Homo sapiens: one gene and its partners. The protein of the gene in region 3 purifies or fractionates together with the protein of the main gene of each other region. This does not show direct contact. Each region holds a gene or a part of one and is shown on either strand. Other genes may lie near its edges.

Region 1 (5,973 bases), on a different chromosome or scaffold from region 3:
GGGTCCACAGATTCCCACATATAATGTACGATGGAGCCCTAACCTGCCCCAGAGCCCCAGTTGTCACCTCCTTATAAGTCCTGTCCACTAGAAATCTAGGCAACAGGAACCAGTCATGACTTCTTAGTACTCTCCAGCCCGAACCAGATCCCCTTCTCAACCTCTCTGTTTTGGTGGCTGGTACCACCTACATTCCAGACTAGATATCAGGGAGATAGCTTTACCTAGACTCCGACCTTTATTTACTTTCATGGTGTTTTTGCACTCTTTCCATCCAAGAGCTTCTCATACTTACTGGGGTTCCTCATTGCCATTCAAGTCCTCCACAGTGGAGCCTAACCCCATCTACTTCCCTAACCATTATTACTCCAAGCATGAACCTTTCGGGTCTGGCCAGACCTGCCTAGGTGAGGTTGCTGGACCTCAAAAGGTCATGAGGACTCCGTGCCCACCCACAATGCCTCCTTTCTTCTTAATACAACTCTCCTACTCCCAGAGGCCTTCTCAAAAGGATGTCTCCTTTTTCTGGCCTGTTCCTCATACTTTAGAAAGGAAAGGGCCCTGGAAAGCATGTCATTTAAATCTCCAATTTTATAGATAAGACACTGAGACCAAGGGAAGGAAAAGGGCCTGTCCAAAATCTAAATTTCCTCTCCCAGCACCTGTCTACATGACATAGTCCTGCACTTCACATGCTAATCTTTATGGACTTGAGGCTGAAGATGGTTATCTTGGCTTTTTTGGTTTCTTCTTGGCTCTAATCTCCCCACAACTGCTAGCACCATGCCAGAGACATAATAGTTACTCCATCTGCTTTGCCGATTAGACCCAAACTACAACATAACAGATGGACTTTTGTCTATTTTTTGTATATTCTGGTAAATGTATGACATTTTAAAGACATTATTGATTTTCAAATTGTTTTCAAACAAAATCCATTTTTTAATTAAATATCTAAAGTACTAAATTGTTCTGTTCTACCATAAGCTCTGTGAGACAGAGAATGATGTCTCTTCCCTGGAATATAATGAACAGTTTCACAAAATCTTGCTTAATGAATGACAGAAAAAAACGGATGGCTATTCTTTTAATGTCATTACATACTACCTCAGTTGATGACTGATATCCATGAAAGACAAGCTCTAGCATTTTAATTGCCCCATAGCACTGATCTAAAATTATTATTAAGTGATGTTAATTCTGAATAGCCTTTTGTACTACCTGAGAACTTACAGCTTTGTAAGGACTCCAACACCATGTTCGACATCCATGCAAAGATGCTAATTAATACTACTGGAATTCTACAGATATTGTAATGGTAGATTTCTCCCCCTCTTCTATGAAATAGCTAAGATGGTACCACAGCTCTCAAAGACAGCTGAAGAAATGTATCCTCAGCTAAGTAAAACTGAGCCCAACAGCTTAGAGCCTGATGAACCACACGACCAGTACTGACCACTGGCTGTAACAGTCCATTCTGCTTAATGCCTCAGCCTATATCACAAGCCTGTTGTGTCATTTTGCCTCACTGCAAAATCAAGGAGAAGAAAGAGGGAAAGCGTGGGCTTGTGAGGCATGATCAGGTACACACACTCTATAGTTACAGCTCTTTCAAAATAGAGCCACCTTTTAAAAACAAATGGGAATAAAAGAAAGCTTTTCCCACAATTAAAAAAAAATAGAATGACCAAAAAAAGCTTTTCTCCATCTAAACAAACACTTTTTAGTCCTTTCCCATCAATGATATGCTACTGGATTTGAGATGATAATTAATTACTCTTCCAGATGCCTCAGCCTGCTCCCATCCTGCTCAGCTTTGCAGGGATTCCCAATATGGCAATGAAAGGCCCCTCTGCAATCTAGCCACAAGACCTACCCCTGGTGAATAAAACACCTCAGGGATGTAGAAATCTGTTCTTCTCCCAATGGGTGTGGTACCCCCGGCCCAATCACTCATCCAAACTGAAAATTTTAGAGATGCTAAAAGTCTAGGGTACAACATGAATATGATCAGATTCTTTGACTTGTATAGCCATGGACCCTGACCTCTCAACCCCATTCTGTGCATGCTGGCCAGCATGATACTTAGTGATGAAGAAGGGGGCTAGTGCTATTTCTTTGGGCCCAGTTCTGAATTCCCTCTACAGAACAAATGGCACACTAGAGTTGGCTACAAACAGAGGAAATTTGGCCTAAGAAAAGCCTGCAGAATTTGGGACTTTTAACAGCTTGTGAGCAACAATGTTTGGATACACTTTCAAAAATGGTCTCAGAAATTCTAAAATGAGCAGGACCCTGAGTGACTGCAAACAACATACTGGCAGACAGATGGATGAAATCCAATTTCTGATTTTTTTTAAAGAAATATTATTCTTAATAAACAACTTGAGCCTTTCACCAGCCAAGCTCTCTCTCTCTCTCTCTCTTTGTCCTCTCCAGGCAACGTGATCACGGTTGTTTCTATTCAGCAGTTATATATCACCCAAGCACTTAACCATCCGCGGAGGCAGAGAAGCATCCCAAATGTAGCACTGGAAGCAGGATTCAGAGTCTTGGCTTGCAGCCACAATAGCCTCTGATACCTCCCTAATGTGGATGAATGGCTGTGAGTCAGTAGGTGGTTCCTGTCGCAGCTGAAGGCTCCTACTGAAGCTCATCCAACCAGGCCTCAGCCCGCTCCCATCCTGCTCAGCTTTGCAGGGATTCCCAACATGGCAATGAAAGACCCCTCTGCAATCTAGCCACAAAACCTATCCCCAGTGAATAGAAAGCCTTAGGGATGTAGAAATCCGTTCTTCTCCCAATGGGTGTGGTAATCCTGGCCCAAAAACTCATCCAAACTCACATGTTGTAAAATGACTGACGATGATAATGATGTAGGTGATAACAACAACAGCCAACATTTATTGTGTTCATTCACTTTGTGGGAATGACTAACTCAAGACCTCACTGTGGTTTTGCAAAAAACCCTTGTTCATCAAGGTGCAGTCAACAGAGCAAGGGTTGTGGAGTCAGACAGAAGTGCAGTCAGATTCCTGCTGTGCCGCTAAAAAAACTCAGTGACCCCGGGGAAGCCCTTTAGCCTTTTTGGGCTTCATTCTCATCTGATAAATGGGGATCCTTTTGTCCACTCTGGCCTCTTGCTGAAGATGGTGCAGGTTTACAGAGGAATACCAGAGATAAGGGATATGAACGCTTATCATAAACTGGAGTGCACTCTCTACACAGGATCTGGTCGAGGGTCACATGGCTGGTTAGTGGCTGGCCTAGAACTAAGGCCCAGCTGTCTGAACTCCCAGGCCAGAAAGGTGGAACTGTTGTTCCCCTCAGTTGAGAGGAGCACAGAGACCACCAGCTGGCATGGAGAGGCTGTTTGACACAGGAACTCCCAAAAGCAGACTCTCCCATTTCCAGACACCAGCTTCTCACCCCCACATTTCACCATCGGTGCAGCTGCCTTTACCTCTAAATTTTTGCCTCGCACAGACACATACAACAGTCACATACACACACTCTCTCATTCTCACACACACATGCACACCTTAGCTCTTACAGATTATCAGAACTCACAGAACTGGTCCTGCAACCTCCTAGGGGATCTGTCAACATCCAGAGAAATTCTGGAACCCCTAGGCTATCCCTATTCTTCAAAGTGAATATTTCTGGAGGTGGGCAGGAATGAATGAAATAAAAAGGTGCCCTTGAGGTAGCAATGCATTTCTCTAGCAAGTTTTATTTCATTTTTGCAAACACCGTAAAATCCAGTAACTGTGACTTTTTAGAACATGGTTGCTCTTTGATTAGACTAGATGCTACTGTAGTATCACCCTTTTAATAACCAAGAAAATCCTATGTCATTTCAAATAATTTTGCTTCAATTTGGGACAATCCAAGAGGCTTTGAGGGGTTCTGGTTATCTTCTGGAGAATGCGGGAAGGAATCTGCCAGAGGACAGTAGCCACCAAACAGATAATCTAGACCACATTAATAATGTGTGTTTATAGACATCATACTCTGACCTACATGTTCAAAAGGATCAGTAAAGGCACATGTGCCCCATGGAACTCCAGACAAGGCCATGGCTTTCATGGTGACCAAGACCTTGTTTTCACTTCTCTGCTATAGTCATGGCTGTGGAATTCTACTTTTGCCCAGAAGAGCTTTTTAAATATTACCACCTCTCAATACACCTACAAGGTCTGTCAGTATGAGAAATTCTTTTCAATATTGCCAAATTGTTTGGGAACTTATTAAACACCAGAATATTGTTGTGACAATGACTTACACAATTGTACCAATGGATTGAGGTCCTGGGGCTAAGGTTTTCTTGGGGTGGAAGAAAAAATTTGTTAGTATTGGAAAGGAAATACAAGTTTGGCAGATTCTGACACAATTCCAGCATTTGAGAAAGGACAGTGTAAACTGAGAGAAGAGAGAGTGAAGAGGAGAGCCAGGGGGTGATGTTCCCCTTAAATCTCAATGGTAATCTGAAAGTCAGAGGGCTCTAGGGCTCTATTTGCTGCAGTTGGACAGAAAAATCCACACTGGTTGTTGCGTTCTAACAGTCACCTGCAAAGCATCCCCTTGTCCAGGGTACCAAGTGCACCCGGGGGATGGGGATGGGACACAGACATGTCCTTGCCGGCCCAGAGACCCCATCCAGAGGCCTCCAGGCCATGAAACTCACCTTGTGCACCCCCTGGACTCCCTGCTTCAGCCCAGATTTGTTTTAAGGAGACTTGCGAAACAGTAGCCCTGGCTGGACTAACTGCACCCCATAGCACTCACTTCCCCCACCCCACCACCACCCACTTTACAGTACTGCATGACCTCTAGCAACTGGACATCGCGTCTGGAGGGAGGAAAATACCCTTGCTTCTGGCTACAGACTATTAATAAATCAGCTTTTACCGCATCAGCCCAGGCTCACAGAACATGGGCTGGCAGCGCCCCATGCTGGGGCTCAAGCTTTTTAAATATTTTTTGTAAATCAGGAGAGGCTCCTGGTGACTGAACCCCACATGGGGTCCAGGGCACCATCCCAGCCCGCCCTTCGGTCCGCGGGGTGCCCCCCGCCACTCCCAAAGAGCCACGGATGCCTCTCATGCAGCCAGTAGTGATAAGCAAGCCTGGGAACCATGAGCTCTCCTTGGATGTCGGAAAATAGCGACAGAGGGACACCCAGTCGCCCGGGAAGACCAGAGCCAGAGCGGGGAAGGAGCGAGGTGATAAAAGTCCGGCAAGAAGAGAAAAACAGAAAGGGTAAGAGAGAAAAAGAATAAAAGCGAGAGAGGGGAATGGAAAGAAGGAAACAGCGAGCAAACAGGAGCAGACAACATCTAGGACACAAGAGAGAAAGAGGGAGAACAAGGCAAATAGACGAAATAGGGGGGAAAGCGGGGGGAGGGAAGAATGCGGGCGCCGAAAGGAGGAAGAGAGCGCTGAAAGGAGACTTCGGAACCCGGGTGCAGAGTAGAAGAAAGCAGGGATCCAGAGACGCTGCACGGAGAGCGCGGCTCTTTAGGGCTCTCCAGTGCGGAGACTGAGTACGATGCCCCGTCCCAGCGGCCCCGTTCCGGCCGCTCGGCCGCCTCCCCCGCACGCTCTGCCAACCATCACGCAGGCCACCCTGCGGACAGACAGACGGTCAGTCCGGGGCCGGAGCGGAAAGCCTTTCTGTGGCCGCCACAGCGCGGCGAACGTGCGCTACTGGGCGCCCAGCACCTGCCCAGCCGGGGTGCAAACGCCCGGGCGTCAGGGTGCGCGCTAGGTCCCCGGCTTGGGCCAGCCGCGCCTCCCAGCCCTCCGCCCGCCTAGGCCCGGGTCCCGCTCGACTACCGGCGCGCACTCACCTGGACGGTCTCAGCCTGGCGTCGCGCTTGCCGTCCACCACGGAGGGCACACAGCTGGTGAGCTCGGTCCAGTCGGCGTGCAACCCGCAGCTCCAGCCCGTGGAGAACCTGGAGAAGAGCC
Region 2 (5,312 bases), on a different chromosome or scaffold from region 3:
GGCAATCTGTCCCTATAATTTTTATCGAGAACATCAACCACGTGGAGCTACATACATTGTACGTTTGCTAAAAGTGGACAGAATGACATTTGTGTTACCCAGTAGACTTCTCTAACAAAAATTTGTTTTAACTTAAGTGACCTGTGTAATTATGCAGAAGAATGGAGCTGGATTACACACAGCAAGTTCCTGCTTCTGGGACAGCTCTACTGACGGTATGATTTTCATTCATGTTTGTGAAGTTTTGTTGTGTGAAATATATGACTGGAAGTTTCCTATCTTTGAATGCAATGCATGTTTATCACCTTTTAAAACATTTAATAATAGACTTGCCAAGGTTCTTTGTGTAGCATAGAGATGGGTACTTGAATGTTGGCCTTATTGTGAGTAAAACGTCGTCCCCCAGCTTTCCCTGCCGTAAATGCTGCTCTCTTCCCTCCCGCAGGGAGCTGCACTGTGCGATGGGAGAATAAGACCATGTACTGCATCGTCAGTGCCTTCGGACTGTCTATTTGACCTGCAGTCCAGCCTATGGCCTTTCTCCTTTTGTCTCTAGTTCATCCTCTAACCACCAGCCATGAATTCAGTGAACTCTTTTCTCATTCTCTTTGTTTTGTGGCACTTTCACAATGTAGAGGAAAAAACCAAATGACCGCACTGTGATGTGAATGGCACCGAAGTCAGATGAGTATCCCTGTAGGTCACCTGCAGCCTGCGTTGCCACTTGTCTTAACTCTGAATATTTCATTTCAAAGGTGCTAAAATCTGAAATCTGCTAGTGTGAAACTTGCTCTACTCTCTGAAATGATTCAAATACACTAATTTTCCATACTTTATACTTTTGTTAGAATAAATTATTCAAATCTAAAGTCTGTTGTGTTCTTCATAGTCTGCATAGTATCATAAACGATTTCTTCATAGTGAGTGGCTACAGAATCTATACAACCAGACCAGGCGCAGTGGCTCACACCTGTAATCCCACCACTTTGGGAGGCTGAGGCAGGCGGATCATGAGGTCAGGAGATCAAGACCATCCTGTCTAACACGGTGAAACCCCGTCTCTACTAAAAATACCAAAAATTAGCCAGGTGTGGTGGCGGGCGCCTGTAGTCCCAGCTACTCGGGAGGCTGAGGCAGGAGAGTGGCATGAACCCAGGAGGCAGAGGTTGTAGTGAGCCAAGATCGTGAGCCAAGTTCCCGCCACTGCACTCCAGCCTGGGTGACAAGAGCAAGAGTCCGCCTCAAAAAAAAAAAAAAAAAAAAAAAAAAAAAATATATATATATATATATACAACCAAAAAAAAAAAAGTTCTGCTGTGGTCCTCTCCATGATGTACTCATTTTACCCGTGGGACCAGGATCCTGACGGCTCTGCTGGGTTCTGGTTAGATTCCTACCCCTCGGCATCACACCTCCCATTCTTAAGCCCTCCTCTTCTAGAGGTGAAGGGGTGGGAGGTGGGCAAACCAATTTCTATTCTCTTAGCCAGAGAGCTCTAACTCACACTTGGCCCAAAGCTGTAACACCTTAACTGTTAATCCTGTGTTCTCTGTAGGGCTCACAAATTGTCTTAGTACTTCAGAGCTTACAAAATGGTTTTCACAATCATTCATTCTGTGTCTTCAACAATTTGCAGTCATTTAAAAATCTCAGAAAATGTGTTTGGAGGTTATCTGATTGGTTTAAAGTCACACATCCAAGTTGGGAGCTGGGCCCAAACCCACGCCTTGTCTCCATCTTGAGTGCTCTTCCCCAGGCCACATTAGACATGGCAATAAAGATACCTCCGTGCCTGCCTGCTGAAATGGAAAAGCCCTGCCGTTGTCTCCAAAGCCGCTTTATTAAAGCATTTATGTCTGCAAGGCCAAATTAACTCCACACACAAAGAGCAAACAAATCAAGACACATAGAAGTGAATATTAAAAATTTATTAACATTTCCCAGAAAGGTAGTGTCAGAATTAAGCCATTCGCAAAAGACGAATTTGCCATAAACAAACATTCACTTTTGCCTGATGACAGCAACACTGTGATGGGGTGGCACTGTGCCCCACGGACAGGTCCACAACTGAACACATGGCTCTATCTCTCCTTTTGGGCTTAAAGTTTAGTGTTATTTTATTTTACAAATATTTACAGTCATTTTGTAAAAAGGCAGTTTTTAGTAGCAGAAAATTCTTCTGTTTTATAGTATGGTATCACAGTTACTAGCGTATCTCCAATGTCAAACCAAGATAAACAGCATCACAAGATGTCACAGACTAATACAACTTCCCTTTGGCCAGGGGAAAAGATCTGTATCTTTTTTTTTTTTTCTTCAAAAGTCTAACCTCTAAGGCAACCGGTTTCTAAAACCCTCAAAATACACAAATACACTTTCATGTTTTAAGTCTCATCTTCACTAAATGTTCAGACACATCCGTTTTAATTATCCCTTTTATGAGGGTCTGTGTTTTTCCTGTGATAAAGGATTCAGGAAATAATTTACCACATTATAATCTATTTAACATAACTACCCTCAGTAAATAGTTCATAAAATACTTGAGGCTGGTGACATTTGTCTTGTAACCTGCTCATTTAGTGGGTTGGGTTTACAAAATGTATCTAAGCTTTTATTGCAATCTGCAATTATGTACATTAACAACCTTACAAACCTTGAACATAGTATATATATCCCCTTCTCTAGCCTTTCAAATGGGGCTTAAGAGAGAGAAAATGGCACCACTTCACTGCTATAATGATTTAATAATAAATCAAGCAGACTTATCATCCACATGGATAACGAAGCTCTCCCTAGGGAAACTGAAATACCTCTGGTCATCTTCCAGGTTCTCCTAGACTGGACCAGTATTTAAAAAATCCCAAAGATGATGTTACTCAAGCCATTACCATGAAGGAACTAAAGTCAGCCCTTTAAGTTCGCAAAACTTTAACATAACTACCCTCAGTAAATAATTTATTTTTTCTTCAACAATTTTCTTGCTACTGTCAAAAGTTTCTGGCAGACTTTAGTGTTTTAACCTGATACCTATGGTACATATTCTACATGCCAAGTGCTAGAGAGTTTAAGCAAAATTTTACATGGGGTATGTAATATGTCGGTATTTATGATATACCAGGGAAGACAAGTTGAAAATACATGACTTAGTAAGAACGATTTTCCCCTTAAGTACTTTCTAACTTTTTTTCTTATTTCCCACTTAGTTACAAAAAGTAAATAAATAATCCTATATTTTTCATTTCATTGATGCATGAAGACTCAATGTATGAAGATAATAGTCATCAGTTTATAATTACACTATAGGACAAAGTTTTAAAAAGTTCTAGTGTGTGTATGGCTAAATGCCTCAAATATTTTACATTTACTGATAAATAACAGCATTCCAAAATCATGGACAATTATGATTAAAAGTTGTAAACCATATCACAGAATATGTTAATCAGCACATCTTCATCAGTTTACATAAAGTTATAGTAGTCTTATTAGAAGTTGTAAAATTTGGTAACAGAAAATTTTTTTCAATACACAGAATAAAAAAAACATCATTGCAAATTTAAAAATCATGTAAACTTGAATTACCCTTGCAGTAAGTTGTCTTAAACATTCATATTTACAAGGTTTTTAAAACAAATGTGAATAGAATCCATATTAAAAGTACATTATCATTAAAGTTTAAATTAAAAGGAAAGATACAAAGGAAAGTCATAACAAATAGTTTCTCATGAACATCTCTAAGGTCCTACCTAGCACTACTTAACGTGGATGATAACGTGAAGCTCTGCATGGTAATCTGAGAGTCAATGCATAGATGAAGAAAAAAAGTAGGTACTGCTTGCGTTGCGGAACTATCATCTTCTGGACCTCAATTGCCAAGACGGCATCAGTCAGGTTGCCCACAGTTACCAGATGTTAACAGAAGTGTGACTGTAGAGGTCAAGAGGAAAGCACGGGAGACGTCCACATGAGACTCTATATGGAGTCCCTGACTGAAAGGAACGGGGAAGCTCCAGGGCCTTCTATGATGCCACAGATTCAGCAGTGCCAAGGACTTTACAGAACAGGTCGTCCCTACCTGACCGCCATGTGGACACATGGAGGACAGGGAACCCCTTCCGGAAGCACGAGTTGCCTTCTACCCAAATACGTTTTCCATGAACCATTTAAAACATTTTACTTGCTTTTCATTTTGCTTCCAAATATGAGTTTTAAAAACTTTTGGCCAATAAATAATCTAAAATATTCTATCAATCTTTCATGTAGCTTTATTTATTTATGACACGGGTTCTCGCTCTGACACCCAGGCTGGAGTGCAGTGGTGCAATCATGGCTCACTGCAGCCTTGACCTCCAGGGCTCAAGCAATCCTCCCACCTCAGCCTCCTGAGTAGCTGGGACTATGGGCATGCCCCAGCATGCCCAGCCAACTTTCTAAATGTTTTATAGAGACGGGGTCTCCCTGTGTTGCCCAGGCTGGTCTCAAACTCCTGGGCTCAAGTGATCCTCCCACCTTGGCCTCCCAAAGTGTTGAGATTACAGATGTGAGCCACTGCACCTGGCCCCTCATTTAGCTTTTACTTACATAAATAAATAAAGCTCTATGGCATTTCATATTCAACAGAATTGCAGAAACTGCTATTTACTGGAATGGTAAGGGTTCCTCTCCTGCCCATACCTCCCACAGGCAAATCCATTTAATCATGTGTGTACACACAGGCCCCTGAAAAGCACCATGGCAGTAAGACCTTCCCCACATGAGTTGGTAACCTGTAAATTATCTTAGCCTTTCCTTATTCAACTTATCAAACCCTCCTCAGAACTCCACACTATTACTTCCCCTTTGGTGACGTGAAGGGTTGGAACCCCAGCATCTCCCATTCCCGATGAGTCATAACTCACACACTGCACAAAACGCAGTCCACATAACTGACCAATCACTTCAGCCACCTGGTTACCCAGGGCACTGGCCACTCAACGAGGAAGGACTGCCCTGAAGCAGCCACAGATAAGGCTTCCCTTTGAGTTTAAAGGGTCACAAAACAGTACCATGGAAAAGGGAAGAAAGAGGGTGATGCTGTCACGCTGAGGACCTAGTCACAGGCTGCCCGTGAACTTGGAATCAGTGAATGATTACAGGAAAAAAAAGTACATAATTCACTGTACTAAAAACGTGAAATTTCCTCATCACTGAAAACACGCTCATCTGAAATCTCTGTAAAAAAGGATTTGGCTGTTGAAACTTGTTATCAATGCCTCTTCTCGTAGCCACCATGACAATAAATTTGGCTAAACATTTAAATTTACCCTCAGTTTTGG
Region 3 (5,973 bases):
GCCCCAGGGTCAGAGGCATCAAGCACTAGGTGAGCCAGGCAGGAATTCACCTGCGGCGAGAGCCAGTGAGTCCCAGCCGCACCTTGAATTGCTTTTAATTTTTCTAGCTGCCGTGACCTTAAGTGCAACACGCATCCTCTAAATCCAATTTCCGACCCAAGCCCCACCTCGGGCTGTATCACATAAAGGCTATTTGCCAATTTTATCTTCTCTTGAAATGTCAGACCTGTAGGATTAGGAGGTCATCTAGTCCAACCCTCTGATTCCATACAGAGGGAACCAACAACTTGCTGAAGGTCACACAGCAAGTTCATGGCAGAGTCAGAGTTTGGTCGCAGGCCCCCTGACTCCAGCCTCAACACCCTAAACAAAGGTCCATGAACATGCTCTGAGTCAGCCCTATGCTGTGTTTGCACCACCCATGCTAGGGGCTGGGAAGACACAGACCAAGTCATCGTCATTGTCCCCCATGGGACTCTCAGTGAGGTTCCAACTTGAGAGTGGGCTCCCCACTCTCAAATCCATAGCTCAAAAGATTTCTTATTTATGTCTCCATCAACATGGGCTCTCTATGCCTTATTTATCTTTGGAAAGAGGCAGCGTAGTCTAGAGAGAGAGCTGTGCCACTTATTAGTTGTGTGACCCTAGGCAAGTGTCAAAATCTGTCTGAGCCTTTTAGCTTCCTTGTGGTCAAAAGAAGACTCAAACACCTTCATCCTAAGGCAGCCCTAAGGAAGAAAGGATAGAAGGCGTTTAGCAGATTTCAATAAATATCTGCTCCATTTTTCTTTTTCTTTCTTTCTTTCTTTCTTTCTTTCTTTCTTTCTTTCTTTCTTTCTTTCTTTCTTTCTCCTTTCTCTCTCTCTCTCTCTCTCTTTCTTTCTTTTTTGAGACAGTCTTGCTCTGCTACCCAGGCTGGAGTGCAGTGGCGGGATCACATCTCACTGCAGCCTTGACCTCCTGGGCCCAAGTCATCCTCTACCTCAGCCTCCCAAGTAACTGGGACTACAGGCACATGCCACTACACCCGGCTAATTTTTGTATTTTTCTATAGAGACTGAATTTTGCCATGTTGCCCAGGCTGGTCTCAAACTCCTGGGCTCAAGTGATCCTCCTGCCTTGGCCTCCCAAAATGTTGGGATTACAGGTGTGAGCCACTGCGCCCAGCCTATTCCATTTTTCTTGGGCACAGATAAGTATTAGAAGCAGATCTGTTGTGGGAAGAACCAAAGTTTGGCACCATGGGATTTGCGGGCTGTAAAGTATTTGAAATCCCTTTGTGTGGTGGGAGGACCGGAGGCCCAAGAGGCCTGTGTGAGGGTTGACAGCTGGGCGACAGGAAAACTGCTGGGCTTTGGCTTGGCTGAGCAGGACTGCAAGCTGAAGAGAGCTGATGGCTTTGGGCAAGGGGCATTTGTAGGCGACCTTAGGGCAGGAGTCCAGTGGAGAGGCCTGAAGGACCCAGCAGGGGAAAGAGAAGGAAAGACTTAACAGGCATGGCCAGCGACAGGGTTTCCATTTTTGCCATCTGCTGTGCAGTGTCTCTCTCCTTTTTTTTTTTTTTCTGAGACGGAGTTTCACTCTGTTGCCCAGGCTGGAGTGCAGTGGCACGATCTCGGCTCACCACAACCTCTGCCTCGCAGGTACAAACGATTCTCCTGCCTCAGCCTCCCGAGTAGCTGGGATTACAGGCACCCGCTACCACGCATGGCTACTTTTTGTATTTTTAGTAGAGATGGGGTTTCAACATGTTGGCCAGGTTGGTCTCGAACTCCTGACCTCAGGTGATCCACCCGCCTCTGCCTCCCAAAGTGCTGGGATTACAGATGTGAGCCACTGCACCCAGCCTGTGTCTCTCTCGTTGGTCTCCCGCACAACCTCCAGGAAAATCTGTGCCTCCTTATTGCTGTTGGAGATTTGGGGATTCAGCAACTGCATGCTAAACACTTCAAGGAGGGCCCAGCTCCATTTCGGGTGGGAACACTGGGGCTGGAGGAAGGATGAGCTGGCTCAGGGTCACCCGGCTTGGAAGGTGGTGACCTTGGGTCTAGAATTCAAGTCTGCAAGGCTTGAGGCTTTTTAGGATTATAAGGCAGGGAAGAGAAGCTAAGAGAGTTGCTGAAGTGTATATTTTTTAAAAAGACACAAAGATATAGAGGTAGAGATAGAGAGGGAAAGATAGACACTGAGAGAGACAGACGGTCAGTCCTGGCCAGAAAGAGGACCCCTCTTTCAAGAGCCTGCCCTGAAGGACATGAGTGGAGGTTTATTCACCCAGGTCTTGGCTGTACTAAGATCAAAGCCTGAGGCTGGACCAGGAAAGCCTGTGGGGGCCCAAGAATCCAGGGCCACAGCTCTACTCCTGGGAGGGGCCATGAGTCTGAGCAGAGCCTTCAGTGGGTCACCAGCAGGTGGGTGGGCTCAGCATGTGGGTGGGCCGCCAGCAGGTGGGCCGGCCACCTGAATGTCCGGGGCTGTCCCTTCATATACAGAATCCATAGGCTAGATGGAAATGGAGCTAAGCTATTGAGGACTGCCCACATCCAGGGTACTTTGTAAACTAATCTTGCTTAATTTTCAAAAAGCCTGTTGAGGAAGGTCATTAAGAGATGAAGATACTGAGGTTCAGAGAGGTGAAATGTGTCTCAAATCACAAGCTGCTAAGATGCAGCACTGGAATTTGAATGCAGGTCTTGCATTCCCAGAGAGGTTTCTGATTATATCCGGTGGCTACATGGACTCGGCCCCTCCAGGTCTGAAGTCCGTCAACTGCTCAGGGAGATAAGGTTGGGTGGGGCTCCCTCTTGCTGCCCTCTGATCACCCCCATCCCCTCCTTTCCCACTCTCCACGAGGGGTCAGATCCCAAGACAGTGGCCGGACCTAGGTCCCCTCCACCTTTTTGAGAGGGGCTGACCCACCCCAGGGCCTGTGTAAAATGTCTCTCCTAAGAAGGTGGGCTCTTCAGAGTGGGGTGGGCACTGCTGGGGGCCCCCTTCCATGAAAGCCTGGCTGGCAGGTACCCCTGCCTCTAGCGCCGGCCCCTGTGCTCGCCCCAGGGACTCAGCCCAGTGTGACTATTTCAAAGCAGCAGCCAGTTCTGCCCACCCAGCAGAGGCCTGGGAAGACCCAGGAATACTTACAAATATGAAGAAATTGAATACAAACATCAGATACTTCATGCAGCTCAGACAGTCGCCTTCCATGGTGCTCCACCTAGAAATACAAGGCCACCTCAGTCTTCCCGATGGGGGACCCCACCCAGGAAGAACCCCAGCCCCTCCCCAGGGGTTCCCCGCAGCCAGCCCCACCCTTGCAAAGGCTGGAAGAAGATGGAGGCCGATGATAGAGATGAGCATGCTGGAGCCAGCCTGCCTGGGTTTCAGCCTTGGCTCTAGCTTTCATTCGCTATGTGACCTTGGGCAAATTACTCTACCTCTCTGAGTCTTGCTCTCTCTGACTTTAAAGCGGAGATTAGGAACAGAACCTTCCTCCTAGCAGTGTTGTGAAGATGAACTGAAATCCCACAGTAACATGCTTAGCACATCGTCGGGCACGTGGTAAGTGCTCAGCAGTCCCGCTTCACGTTGTTGCTCTACTGCAGGTGTGAGCTGGCCATTTCATAGATGAGAAAACCAAGGCCCAGAGCCTGGACCAGAAGCCAGGCCTGACAAACTTCCCACCAACCCACACACCCTCCAGCCACAGAACAGACCAGGGCGGTTGCTTGGTGCCAGCGAGATGGGGTGTTGCAGGGAAAAGGAGAGCAGCCTACCTGGGGATCTAAAACCTGCTTCTGGGGCCAAAGCCTCCCTGAGCCTTGGCTACCTCTACTCTGAGACCTCTAGCATCCCACCTCCCTGGGAGCCCTTCCTGTCTTCACCTAAAAGTATACCCATGGCAGCAAGTCATTGAACACAATTCCATTCAGCCAACATTGATTGAGCATCCGCTGCTTGCCAGGCACAGCCGGGGCTGCACTGAGATGCAAATGTCCCCCATCCCCCAGGGGAAACTGACAGCATCTGCTCTCATGAGTCAGACCTCAAGGTGCACAAGACATGTTTACATTCCATATTCGTTATTTTCACATTTTCTTCATAACGGCTCTGAGGAGAGACTCAGGGCAGGGATTAGAGATCCATGAGACAGGTGGGGAAACCGAGACTCAGAATGAAAACGACATGTCCGATGTCCCACAGCTAGTAAGGGGAAGGGCCAGAACTCAAGCCAGTCCTGAGCTGCCGGCACTGCAGGTGCTTCCAGCAGGGGGTTTGTACCTCCATGACAGGACTCAGTGCAAAGGGTTCTGGGAATATGTGTTGGGGTGTGGATGGATGTAGGGGAGATGGTGTCTGATTACTTTCTGCAGCTCCCGCTTCCTCCCACAGGACATGGCTGTACTCTATCTTCTTCTTCCACAAAATAAGGTTGCTAAGTCTGACTCAAAGGGTTTCTGGGAGGCTTATTATTAATATTAATAATAGTAAAATGTGTATCAAAGCATCACATTGGACTCCATAAACATATACAATTATTATTCATCAATTTAAAATGAAGTCAGGAAAACAGTAATAATCGTAGCCACTGTTTGGGGATCCAGCACTGTGCCCAGGGTTTTGCGCATATTATCTCGTTTAATCCTTGTAACCACCAAGGAGGTATGTACTCTGATGACCACACATCCTTCCATCAGCCCAGCCCTCAGAAGGGTTAAGGGATTTGTCCAAGGCCACACAGCTTGTAGGAAGCACTGACAAGGCCCATGGCACATAATAGGCCTCAGCAACTCTGTCCCCTCCTCGCCCTCGCCCAAAACCACAATCCAACACTCTCCTCAGCAGCCAGACCAGCACCCTCGTATCATAAGGAACAGATGGAGCAGAGCGGTGCCTGCCTCTCACCTGCTGGGCCACTCCACCCCTCTCCTAATCAGTGATGACAGCACCACTCCAGGCTGCATTTTGGTCTGAGCTAGAGGTGTTTTTGTTTGTTTGTTTGTTTGTTTTTAAGTGCATTTGAATCCATGGAGAGAGGAGCACAGACAGAGCCAGCTGGTGGGGAGTCGACACAGGAAAGGTTCCTGGTCTCAGGGGTGGTGCCTTGCGTCCCTCCTCTCGTTGTTTCTGCCAAGGTGCCAGATGTCTGTCCACCAGCTGAGCTTGGCCAGGCAGACATGGCTAAGGTGCCTGGAGCCCAAGAGGAAGGTCTGACAGGCACATCGGCTTTGGATTTGGCACTGGCCCTGGGGCCGGAGGGCTTTCCTCCCTAAAGGGACACCTCCTCCTTGCTGCTCTACTGGTCCCTATTGCAACTTGGAAAAATGCTGAGCAGGGGAGGCACAGGCGGGGCCACTCAGCATCAAAGTCAGGAGGGGAAGACACTCAGAGCCCACCTGGGACATCCTCCTTCTTCTCTTACTAGGAAGGGGAAACTGAGGCACCAAGTTACCTGGTGAGGAATGCAAGGGAAAAAATCATGGGGTGAACCTGACCCAGGGACTCCAGGCTCCAAGCCTTTGTCCTTCCAACAGTGCCCCAAGGGTTTCTCTTAAATTGTGTTGGGGTAATGGGAAATCAGGGTTTTCCTGAGATCATCCACCCAAGTCTCCACCCCTACAAATAATACTATTTATTGAGCATTTACTATGTGCCAGCTCCGTCCTGATACTTTACATTTACTAACTCATAACAACCCATGAGATTAATACTCTTATTATCCTTATTTTCCAGAGGTGGAAACTGAGTCAGACAGAGGCGAGGTGACTTGTCTGAGGTCACAGCTAGTGAGTGGTGAAGCCAAGATTGGAACCCAGGCAATCCAGCTTGGAAGGACAAAGGATGGTGTGTGTGTGATGGGGTGGGGGGCGGATTTGTCTTTACTTCAGTGAGCATGGCCTGAATTCAAGACATGCCATCTGCCTTTGGAGGTAAAATCGGATGACATCATCCTCTCTATCACAGGGGTCTCTGAAA
Region 4 (5,973 bases), on a different chromosome or scaffold from region 3:
AAAAAACAAAGCAAAAAACCCCAAAAACTGCATGAGTCATCTGGGAACTTCTTTGTATCTATGTATATTTTATTTAGAAGCAAAAACTAAGCCCGGGCAAGACGGCACAACCCCACCTCTACAAAAAAAAAAAAAAAAAAAAAAAAAATTGAAATAAGATAAAATAAATTAGCCAGGTATGGTGGTGTGTACCTGTGCTCCCAGCTACCTGGGAGGCTGAGGTGGGAGAATCATTTGTGCCCAGGAGGTCAAGGCTGCTGTGAGCTGTGATTGCACCACTGCACTTGAGCCTGGGCAACAGAGAAACCCTGTCTCAAAAATATAAATAAATATAAGAAAAAACTCTATTTAAATAAAGATTTTAAAATTCCTTTGCGCTTTTGAAATTCTTTTGGCAGATGTGCTAAGAGAAGGCGGGACACACCTCGTCCCACGCCCTTGGAGGGGATGGGCATGTCGTTTCTCCCCCTTCTCCTGGTACCTACACCCCCACTTTAAGCCTTCCCTACTTTCAGCCTTGTGCTTGGAGTGGGGCCGGCCCACCCAGGAGCCATCTGAGCATGTGACACAAGCCTGGCCAATCAGCATAGTCCACCTCGGCTACTGTGATTGGTTTACAGCTGGGCATGGGAGCCAGGCAGACCAATTAGAGCAAACCCTGGAACTTCTGCTGGAGTGAAGGAAACACAGGTGGCCCCCTTTCTGCAGGACTCGGAGCTGGGCGGAGGTGAGCCTGGAGCCTCCACAGGCAGCCAGGAGGGAGAGCCTGCTTGGCAGCAAAGCCAGTCCAGCAGAAAACTGAGCTGGGACTTGGCAGAGGCAGCTTCCAGACAACATCTAAGTTCTGGATTTGTGCCTAATGCAGAGATCTGCCCTGGAATTTTTCATTACGCAAACCAAGAAGTGCCCTTTTGGCCTAAATCAGGTGGAGTCCAGCATCTGCCACTTGCGACAGTTGCTGTAGCACACCTATTGGGTGTGTAACATCCTCAACCTTAGGAGCAGAAATCCCCGCCGATACCAGCAAAGAATGAAGCAAGCAGAGGCCAATGCCCAGACGGGCCAGACAGGACCAGGAGACAGCAGCGGGCGTCCCAGGCCCCAGCTCCAAACCATTCATTCACAGGTTGTTCCATTCTGCCTGAAATAGGGGAAAGCATCCAATCTGTTGACAGCCCCTCCTCCTGACCCCTGTTGCAGACCAGTCCTTTAGAGTCGCCATTGCCAGCTGGAGGACGGGGCTTCAACCAAAAAGGCTCCCAGAAGGCAAGACACAGTCAAATAGAGGGCCGCTTCCGGTCCTACCAACCCTGTGACCTTGGTCGCATCCAGCATCAGGCCTCAATTTCCTAAGTACAGAACGCACTCACCATCCCTATATTCAAATACTGTATGAGTACCCATTACATGCGGGGCACAGTTCTAGAAGCTAAGAATAAAACCAACAAGAGGAGCTTGGGGCCCTGCCTACAGGGATGACAGTGAATGGAAGGGGCAATGAATAAAATCCACAGTCCATGAGTTCAGGGAGCAATGAGCACCAAGACAAGAAGAGGAAGACAAGAAGACCAAGACAAGAAGACAAGAAGAGGAAGCCATAGGGAGCAGCAGGTGGGAGAGGGGGCAACTTTAGAACAGGAAATCAGAGGAGGCCTCCCGGAGGAGGTGGCATTTGCATGCAGGCCAAAAGAAGGTGAGGGATGATCCACTCAGAAATCCAGACAAAGAGCTCTCCAAGCAGGGGAAGCAACCCATGCAAACCACAGTGCAAGGCACTGACCTTGGTATACTTTAGAAAAAGGGCGAAGGCATCAGGGCTGGAGAATAATGAACAGGGGACGTGTAGGGAGAAATGGAGTCAGAGAGGCTGGTGGGGCTGGATCCTTCAGAGAGGCCGGTAGGGGCTGGATCCTGCAGGGCCCAGGGCCATGGTGGGAGTTTGGACTTCACTATGAATGCAGACAGAGCTGCCAGACATTTTAAGAGGACGGCGGCCATCTGCATATTTTTCGAGATGGGTCTTCCTCTGTTGCCCAGGCTGGAGTGCAGTGGGGTGATCACAGCTCACTGCAGCCTTGACCTCTGGGCTTAGGCCATCCTTCCACCCCAGCTTTCCACGTAGCTAGGACTACAGGCATGCACCACCATGCCTAGCTAATTTTTTTTTTTTTTTTTTTTTTTTGGCCAGAGAGAGGTCTTGCTATATTGCCCAGGCTGGTCTCGAACTCTTGGCCTGAAGTGATCCTCCCACCTCGGCCTCCTACAGGGTTGTGATTACAGGCGTGAACCACCACACTCGGCCTGCATTGTTAAAAGATCCCTCCGCTGCTGTCGGGAGTGCTACAGAACTTCCTATGATGATGGAAATGTTCTCTATCTGTGCTATCCAAGACAGTAGCTGCTAGACACACATGGCTTATGAGCATTTAACTTCCGGCCGGTGCAACCAAGGAACTGCCTTTTAATTTGATTTCGTTTAAATCAATTTCAATTTAAACAGCCGCAAGAGGCCAGCAGTGACCGCACTGGATGGTCTAGGGGATGGATGGTAAGGCGGCAACACTGCATTGAGGGATGGGCTACTGAAAGGGCTGGATCACCAGGAAGGACGTGTCCGTGGCCTGGACAATGAGGCGGGGGTTGGGGTGGGGAGCAAGAGAGAGGAAGGAGTGAGGACTCAACCTGGAGGTAAAGCCATCTGGGCTTGTTGACGCACTGGAAGAGCTGGGTGAGGACAGGGAAACAAACTGACGCCCGAGGGTCCAAACTGAGCAACTTGAGGTGGGGGTGTCTCAGGGACTGGCACACAATTGAGACACACCAACAATGTCAGGGGACCGACGCCAACAGCAGTCATCACATCTGCCTAGCCACCCACACTGCGGAACGAGAAGATGTTACGTAACACACAGACCCTCGCCAGCCTCATTTCATGTCATTTAGGACACGTACATGCCCTAAGCCCCAGAACCCATGACTATGTCAGGTCACAGGGTAAACGGGCGCTGGGCCTGCTCAGCAGCTGCCTTGAAGGTCCAGAAATTGGGCCGGGCACAGTGGCTCACACCTGTAATCCCATTGCTTTAACACGCAGAGGCAGGTGGATCACTTGAGGCCAGGTGTTTGAGACCAGCCTGGGCAACATGGTGAAACAACATCTCTATAAAAACTTTACAAAAATAAAATTAGCTAGGTATCATGGCCCACACCTGCGGTCCCAGCTACTCAGGAGGCTGAGGCAGGAAGATCGCTTGAGCCCATGAGGTCGAGGCTGCAGTGAGCTATAATCGCACCACTATACTCCAGCTCCAGGCTACAGAGTGATACCTTGTCTCAAAATATAAAAATAGGCTGGGCGCGGTGGCTCACACCTATAATCCCAGCACTTTGGGAGGCCGAGGCAGGCAGATCACTTGAGGTCAGGAGTTCAAGACCAGCCTGGGCAACATGGTGAAACCCCCATCTCTACCAAAAATACAAAAAATTAGCCAGGTGTGGTGGTGCACGCCTGTGGTCCCAACTACTCGGGAGGCTGAGGTGGGAGGATCACTTGAACCTGGGAGGCGGAGGTTGCAGTGAGCTGAAATGGCGCCACTGCACTCCAACCTGGGTAACAGAGTGAGAGTCTGTCTCAAAAAAAATAATAATAAACAAGATGGGGAGATTGTCCTGGGGTATCCAGGAGAGCACGATGTGGTCTTAAGGGTCCTTAGAACTGGAAGAGGGGGCAGAAGAGGGAGGAGAGGAAGAGATATGAGGACAGAGTGGATCAGAAGGATGCCATGTTGCTGGCCTCAAAGGTGGAGGAAGGGCCCGGGAGCCAAGAAACACAGAGGGGCCTCTGGAAGCCAGAAAAGGCAGACGCAGCTTCTCCTAGAGCCTCCAGAAGGAACACAGCCGCCTTGTTCTGAGCGCGGTGAGACCCACGCAGACTTCTGACTACAGAACTGCAAGATAACCAGTGTGTGTTGTTCTAAGCCCTGAAGTTCATGGCAATATATTGTGACAGCAACTAATAGACCTGGCATTTCTTCCTTTTCAGATTATCTTCCTGCGGCCTCATTATCTTCGCCTAATGGGATTATCAAGAGTACAGAGGCCAGAGATTAAGCAGACAGCACTGGGCAGATAAACCCTCAGCTGGCCCCACCCTCACACCCTCCCGCCATCCCAGCACAGGGGACGGCACGTACTGAACCTGCAGGTGCTGACGTTCTGAATTCCAGACTCCAGGCACGGGCAGAAGCCTTCGTTGGGTGGGTAGATGGACCCGTTGGCAAACAGGGTTTTGGGAGCCACGAAGCGATAGGTGGGGATGCCTTCAAACACCCCTGACTCCTTGTACATTAGCTTCATGGATCTGCAGGGGACAGACAGGATGAGAGGGGACACCCAGACCCGGCGGCCAGAGCCAGGCCCTGCCAAAGGCTGCCCAGATCCAGCCACTTCTCCCCACGGGCGCTACCACCTCCCGGGTCCAAACCGCCCCCATCTCTCACCCGCGGAGCTGCAGCGACCTCCTAACAGGCCTCTCCGCTCCGACTCTGCCTCCCCACCCACATCAATGTATTAGCCGTGGCCAGATGGAGTTTTACAAAAGAACAGAGGCCAGGCATTATGGCTCACACCTGTAATCCCAGCACTTTGGGAGGCCGAGGTGGGAGGATCACTTGAGCCCAGGAGTGTGAGACCAGCCTGGGGAACATAGTGAGACCCAGTCTCTAAAAATAAAATTGTTTTTGAAAGTTATGAAATTAAAAAAAGAACAGAATATATCATGCCCCTGCTGAAAATCTGTGACCCTTTCTAGTCTAACCTACCATTAGGATTCATTGACCTTATCTAGCCCCTGCATAAGCTCTGCTCAGCCCTGCCCCAACTTCCTGTGCCCAGGGCCTCCCTGCAGTTCCTAAGCACACTCACTCCTGCCCCAGGCCCTTTGCATCACTGCTCCCTCTGCCTAAGAACAGTCTCCTCTGGCATCTTCATCCACCAGACTTCAGCCCTTCAGTCAGATCTCAGTTCAGCTGTCACTTCCTCGGGTGGCAGCACCGTCCCCCACACCCACCCCATCCACCCTCCATCCATTCATGCTCCTGTACTTTCTCAAAAGCACTTCTGAACTTGAACATGCACTGTGCTACCCACTCTGTCCACGGCAGCCACTCAGCACGCATGGCTGTCCATCCCGCCCTTGACATGGGGTGAGTCCAAATTGGGATGCAAGTATAAAATACATTCCAGATTTCTAATACTTGCTAGCAAAAAAAACAAAAAAAAAACCTCATCAATAACACTTGAAATGATCCCATTTTTGATATATGAGGTCAAATAAAATACATTATTAAAAATAATTTCACCAATTTCTTGTTACTTGTATTAATGCAGCCACTAAAAAATTTTAAATTGCATGTGTGCCTTGCATATTTTGATTTATAGGAAAGTGCCAGCTTAGATAACAGTATTATGTCAATGCCAAATTTTCTCATTTTGATAACAGCATTATGGTTATGTAAGAAAATGTCCTCGTTTCTGAAAAACACCCACTGAGTATTTGGAGGTAAGGGGGCATACAGCCTCCAACCTACTCTCCGATGGTTCTGGAAAAAGACACTCGGCGAGAAGAGGGGGTGGGGGGCTTAACACGGCTAGTGAACCTGGGTGAAGGGGAGACGGGGGCCACTTGTATTTCTCATGCAACTTTTCTTTAAGTTTAAAATTCAGCTTTTAAAGTCAGCTGGGTACAGTAGCTCACACCTGCAATCCCAGCACTTTGGGAGGCTGAAGCAGGAAGATCCCTTGAGGCTAGGAGTTCAAGACTAGCCTGGGCAACATAGCGAGATCCCCATCTCTAAAAAATTAAATAAATAAATAAGTAAAAACTTAAAATAGTAAAAAGTGGCCACACAGAGCAAAAGCACTGTCACTCTCTGACACTCTAGTGTTTGTGCATTTGCCTGAGTTGCCCTGATA
Region 5 (5,973 bases), about 26 Mb from region 3:
AATTCAGTAAAATATTTTTACTTTACCAATACCTTTCCTTCCTTCATGACCACTGAAGAGATTCTTTTAATAAAACAATATTCTACTTTATTTATTCTATCAATATCTTTATAGAGATTATACCTGACTTCAGATTTACCAGCACAGAAGAGAAAATGCTTTTTAATAAAATTCTACCTCCAGTCCTACCATTCCATGAACAAAAAGGAAATAGCATTAGAACTAACACAGTTCCTAGAAGTCCTAAGTACAAGCAAAATCAGAGATTCAATACAACATAGAAACAAACTGCTAAAGTGAGAACTGTCGTAAGTATCTGCCTAGATAAATACCAGAAGTTGAACTATACAGTGGTCATTAATCATGTGTTTATAGAAATAAATACACAGAAAAACTTGAATATGTAAGTGCCTGATCTGAACATACAGACTCTTTTCAGTTAATGATATTTTCAAAGTAGTCAAGAATGATGTCAGAGAATCTCAAAATTTAATATTTTCCAGAAAGCAGATTTATCACTTAGATTTCAAATTATGAGAACATTTAAAATTATAGCCATTTTTTTAAAGCCAAAGGAAGAAATACAAGTCATGTTAACAAGTATATTTCAAGGTATATCTACTTGATAGGTAAGGAAATTTTTTTCTTATTAGTAGCTTTCAAACTTTTTGCCAAAGCTATCAGAAAAGAGAAAATGTATTTCAAGGCTGCTTTTCTAACTATAACTACCTTAAAAGTCAATTATCACAGTCTCTGTGTGAAAAATCTTATTTTCTTCAATGTACTATCATCTCACATAGACACAGATACTTAAAATTACATACACAGAAAAGAAATAGTTGGAACCAAGAATGAGATTGAGTGGACTAAATTAAACTCACCCAATTACTTTGTGAGCTGATAACATGAGAGGTGTCTGCCCATTTACATCTGTCATATTCACACTCTATTCAAAAAGAAGACAATTAGCATAACTGTAAATACACTCAAAAGTCTATTTGTTCTCTTAATAGAAATATCTCTTTAATACATTCAATACTACCATTATTTCTACATAAAGGGCTCAAATATCATTTGATAAAAAGAATGTTTTGCTCACTTCCATAGGGTAAAAATCCATGGATTTCCACAGAATATTTTTAAAAAGAAAATCTGAATATATAATGTAAAGTGTTATATGATGTGAACACAGTTAAGGGAAAGAGTAAAATGTTGATAGCTACCATCAAATACAAGAGATGGTAGAGACCTTAAAAGTCACCTAGTTGAGACCTTAGTTGACACATTAATTCGCATTATCATTTCTTATACAAAGTCATTCAGTACCTACTCAAACACTTCCAGTAAATAGTGAACTCCCTATCTTCTGAGGCAACTTGTCTTTCTGGACTTATCATATTAAGTTTTAAATAGTAAAATATGAAAATTTCCTTTCTATTTTCTGGAACACAGAAAAAAAAAGGAAATCATATTTCCATGAGGATACAGTCCTTTTAATAAGACAGGTCTAGGTTTAAGGTATACAGCAATGGTTTCAGCTAAGCCAAAGAAAAACAGTTTCAGCTTCTGAAGATTCTTATGGGCCTTGGAGGAACAGGACTTGGGAAGGCACCCAAAGAGAAGCAGACAGGACTCTTCCTCATATATTTATATTTTTCCAACAATGAAACCTAGGAGGTTATAATTCTACTTCAATCAGCTAAGTCTGAGAGAAAGTGCTTATTTAAAGGGAGCACAATCATTCCAACAGCATTTGTGCAAACACGTTTTCATGCCTTTTACAGGCAAGTCTGCTAATACATAAACTACTTTGCTACCAGAAAACATATTCCAGGCAAGTATAATTGACAGTGAAACTTACAATAACCTATAATTTAACCTGTGCCTCTCAAGGCAAGTCAATTTTCATGGAATTACTTTAGAGAACAATAAGAAACATATATTCAAATTGGCCTCCCATTTGGGCTCAAATAATGAAAGCAAATGATGGGTTAATTTAGTGATTTGACTACCATTTTTATATTCAACTAGAAGAAAAATACAGGCTTTGAAGTCATGTTTTTGAGAAACTCTGCAAATTACTGGGTTCATAAGAAAAACTATTACCAGCTTACAAGTTTCAGAAACATCTATTATACGTTACTGAGCTAAATGACCTGTCCTTTTCCCTCCAATGAAGCTGAAAAGCAGTATTCAATGGCTAAACGTACTGAGGCTAATATCTGAATATCTGGATATCCATTAACCTCCACTTTAAAAATGAGAAGAGACTACTACTAATAATTTCCCCAACCTCTTCAGATGATAAAAACTGGAGTATAAGACACATTTCAGAACATACCTGTCCCTTTGAGATGAGATATGCTATAATAGGCATGTGTTGAAACAATACTGCCAGGTGGATGCTGCTGAATCCCTCTCCATCAATAAGAGTGGGGTCTGCACCATGCTGGAGTAATAATATGACCATAGGTAAATGTCCTTGTCTGCAAATAGAAGACAAAAAGCCATTCTGTAGCATGCAGAAAAAGCAAAAAGTCAGGGAGAGACTGATATTCCTAAGACATGAGGGATTTTGGTTACATATAAAAAATATTTCCTAACAGTAAGATTTTTGAAACAATGGTGATTGTCCAAACGTTTTTAACTTAGATGCTGCAAACTTAGAACTATATGGATAATCATTCTCGTTTTTTTTTGTTTTTTGTTTTTTGTTTTTGAGATGGAGTCTCGCTCTGTGACCCAGGCTGGAGTGCAGTGGCACGATCTCAGCTCACTGCAACATCTGCCTCCCAGGTTCAAGCGGTTCTCCTGCCTCAGCGGGGACTACAGGCGCATGCCACCATGCCCACCTAATTTTTTGTATTTTTAGTAGAGATGGGGTTTCATTGTGTTAGCCAGGATGGTCTCGATCTCCTGACCTCATGATCTGCCTGCCTGGGCCTCCCAAAGTGCTGGGATTACAGGCATGAGCCACTGCACCCGGCCTGGATAATCATTCTTGAGTGCAAGTGATAAACTTGATAACTTCCCAATCTACCCTAAACCTGACCTTCACACATTACCATACGTGAATAATAATTCTTTATGACATGGTAACAATGAAGATTCTAAGACCACTTAGATGTCACTGTCATTTTAAAATCAAAAAATCATAAGCCAGATATACAGAAATATAATATTCATAAACTATGGGTTTACTGTGATAATATTAAGAGCTATATATTCATATGCTTTTCTTATGCTTGACTATGGTTCATTTTTCATGTAAAGTACTGTACCTCAGTAGCTTAAAGGGCATGAAGTAACCCTAGAGTTTCAAAACTCTTAGCTATGGAGAAAAGATTCAACTCCTTGACTTACATGAACAATTATTCACTTCAGTTTCAGATTCCTGTCAACCCCACCAACCACCGAGAGTGGAGTTTAAATTAATAAAAGAAACTGATAAGTATTCAAGACTTACTAACTTCAGTTTCAGATGGCCAATATACAACAGAGAAAAAAGGAGAGTGACCACACAATATAAATGTTCTAAGTTGATATACTCAAAATTTCTTGTTAATCCTGCAACAACTTTTAAAAGAGTTGACTCAATTGGCCCTAAGATATAGAGATATACTTCACATTTAAGAGGAAACTCACCTCTGAAATAAAATCGTAAATTTCTAAATAGACATCTGTCATAAGCCTGAACTGAATGAGTTTGCACTTCACTGAACTACTATTTTTATTTATGTTACCAAGTATGAAAATTATTTATTCTAATTACAAAAAAGAAACTATAAAACACATATTTGAGTTGGATAATCATAATGAAGCCCTAAATTAAATATCGAAAACATCCTTTCTGCAAACTCTTTAAAGCTGAAATTTATTTTTAAATAAAGGGGGGGGGGGAAGAAAAGACAGCCTTTCAAATCGTCTATAACTGATTTTTTATATGGTGACCACTAGCTATATGTGGCTATTTAATTTCAGTGTTCAAAGAAACCTTACCGGATGGCCCAGTGAAGAGGAGTTGAATTTAAATCTCCACCCAACTGATCTACAACAGCACCTTTTGAAATATAAAACCTGTTAAAAGCAGACACAAATGAAAGTAAGATTTGAAACTTAAGCTTCATATTGAGAAAGAAAATACTAATTTTTTCATAGTAATAAATATGTTGGAGAACAAATTATGATAGTAATAATCCCTAAAACACCCAGATCTATAGAAATATGAAAGGTTCACATGGCAGAATCAGACAAATCCCTGATGAAACATCCTTAGGATGTAAGTAATTAGTCCTGCTGTAATTAGCATTCCATTATAACTTACATATCAAATACATCATAACTACTCTCTGCATAGTCTAACTACCGCAGCACTCTTGAAATTGTTTATATTCAAAAGGTTTAGGATCAGACAGATATTCTTACTTGACTGGAAGGAGAAAGGTAAAGTTATGTCACCTTCAACAGTTTAAAAGTAGAATTACTATGTGGGAATGAATTTTAAAAGTAAGTAGTAAAGAATTAATTTAAAATCCTTTTGGAAAAGTTAGACATTTTGAGTGTTTTGCCCTGTATTTAGGGTACGGAGATGAGAGGCACTGTATAAGGTGGACATATAAGGTAATAAGACTGATTTTCTTCTATGGTTTATAGGAATTAGTCTCATTACTTCAAAGTTGAGCTTCATACATCATATTATCTAAATACCATGCCAGTTTATTTCCACAGAAGAGGAGTTTGCCTGTGAGTATTCATGTGTGTTAGAACATTTTAAACCTTAATAAATTTCTTAAACTTTGAGGATTTTAAATATCTAATCCTATAACACAAAATATATACACATTCACATACACATGTACATTTTACATGTTAAGCTGTTTAAAAGAAACAATGGGTAGGCAGTAGTGCTTTATGAAGGGGAAATATTTTATACAATCCAATACATGCCCACTTAAAAGTATATTCCATATTTAGTTTTTTTAAAAGGTTAAATCTCCTACCTATCTATTCTTCGTGGTATTAAAATGTAAAATATTTCAATGCTTCTTCTAAACTAGATGAGACTTCCCATTCTCTTCTGAAAAAGTTTATTATACTTTTCCTTTTTTAAAAAATGTTCACTTTTACTTTCTAAACTTTATGATTGGCCCCCTTGGCTTTATCTCTAATTTTCCCTTTTGGATCAACCAGGCATGGTCTCTAAGGTCCCTTTCAACTTTATAATAACCAACGTGTGTGGCAGAAAAAGTTTCGGGTGTTCTTTTACACGAGGATTACACATGGTTCAATACCCATACTTAAAGAAAAAGATAAATGAAGGAGAGGTCTAAAATTATAAATACACAATTAACACACATATCCCATCTTACTTTACAAGATCCAGTCTGTTGTTAATAGCAGCCCAATGAAGAAGCGACACATTTTCTTTATCTGGTTGCCTGACATCATATCCTGCTTCTACCAACTCTTTACATCGTTCAAAAATTCCGTATCTCAAAGAAGAAAAAAAAAAGCATAATTGATACAATTAAAATCATTTCAAATATCAAAATTTCTTCACTTTACTATATCTTTTCACTATCCAAACTGCCTTTCAGTCAATACAGAAATATAATAATTAACAAAGACATGCATAGAGAGGACACAGTATAAAGCCAAACAGCAAAAGGAAACCTGGTTTATGTACTGATCAGATTAATCTCTTTGGAGTTGAACTTGACTTTCTTAAGTAAACTTTAAACTTACATTGCCTTCCTTCAATAAGTTTCATCTGATCTCCACTATGTGCCAGAAACACCTGGTGCCAATTCCTGACAATAATCTTACCCCTGAATCAAACCAAGCCCATGCAATAATCTCACAATAAGGGATAAAGACTAAAAGCAAACTTAGAATGGGATAAATTCCACAACGAAATATGGAAAGAATATAGGTATAGCAGAGGAACAAATGATTAGCCCTTCCTGAAGGAGA

What was found.
Region 1: the proteins of TSPAN18 (region 3) and HS6ST2 purify together in Homo sapiens (affinity purification with mass spectrometry; one large-scale study listed by BioGRID and IntAct). This does not show direct contact.
Region 2: the proteins of TSPAN18 (region 3) and TMEM181 purify together in Homo sapiens (affinity purification with mass spectrometry; one large-scale study listed by BioGRID and IntAct). This does not show direct contact.
Region 4: the proteins of TSPAN18 (region 3) and SCARB1 purify together in Homo sapiens (affinity purification with mass spectrometry; one large-scale study listed by BioGRID and IntAct). This does not show direct contact.
Region 5: the proteins of TSPAN18 (region 3) and ZDHHC13 purify together in Homo sapiens (affinity purification with mass spectrometry; one large-scale study listed by BioGRID and IntAct). This does not show direct contact.

Annotation. Positions count from the first base shown.
Region 1 is NC_000023.11:132,950,956-132,956,928, forward strand, and holds part of HS6ST2 (heparan-sulfate 6-O-sulfotransferase 2), read right to left. Parts: coding exon 5,853-5,973; intron 1-5,852. UniProt on the Homo sapiens protein: 6-O-sulfation enzyme which catalyzes the transfer of sulfate from 3'-phosphoadenosine 5'-phosphosulfate (PAPS) to position 6 of the N-sulfoglucosamine residue (GlcNS) of heparan sulfate.
Region 2 is NC_000006.12:158,632,031-158,637,342, reverse strand, and holds the end of TMEM181 (transmembrane protein 181), read right to left. Parts: 3' UTR 1,914-5,312; downstream 1-1,913. Other genes in the region: DYNLT1 (dynein light chain Tctex-type 1), read left to right, coding at 138-215, 446-516.
Region 3 is NC_000011.10:44,903,648-44,909,620, reverse strand, and holds part of TSPAN18 (tetraspanin-18), read right to left. Parts: exon of another isoform or gene 5,962-5,973; intron 5,842-5,961; exon of another isoform or gene 5,782-5,841; intron 3,215-5,781; coding exon of another isoform or gene 3,205-3,214; coding exon 3,142-3,204; intron 1-3,141. UniProt on the Homo sapiens protein: Plays a role in the cell surface localization of ORAI1 and may participate in the regulation of Ca(2+) signaling and the VWF release in response to inflammatory stimuli.
Region 4 is NC_000012.12:124,803,568-124,809,540, forward strand, and holds part of SCARB1 (scavenger receptor class B member 1), read right to left. Parts: intron 4,361-5,973; coding exon 4,194-4,360; intron 1-4,193. UniProt on the Homo sapiens protein: Receptor for different ligands such as phospholipids, cholesterol ester, lipoproteins, phosphatidylserine and apoptotic cells. Receptor for HDL, mediating selective uptake of cholesteryl ether and HDL-dependent cholesterol efflux.
Region 5 is NC_000011.10:19,145,700-19,151,672, reverse strand, and holds part of ZDHHC13 (palmitoyltransferase ZDHHC13), read right to left. Parts: intron 5,493-5,973; coding exon 5,370-5,492; intron 4,078-5,369; coding exon 4,000-4,077; intron 2,487-3,999; coding exon 2,342-2,486; intron 947-2,341; coding exon 882-946; intron 1-881. UniProt on the Homo sapiens protein: Palmitoyltransferase that could catalyze the addition of palmitate onto various protein substrates. Palmitoyltransferase for HTT and GAD2. May play a role in Mg(2+) transport.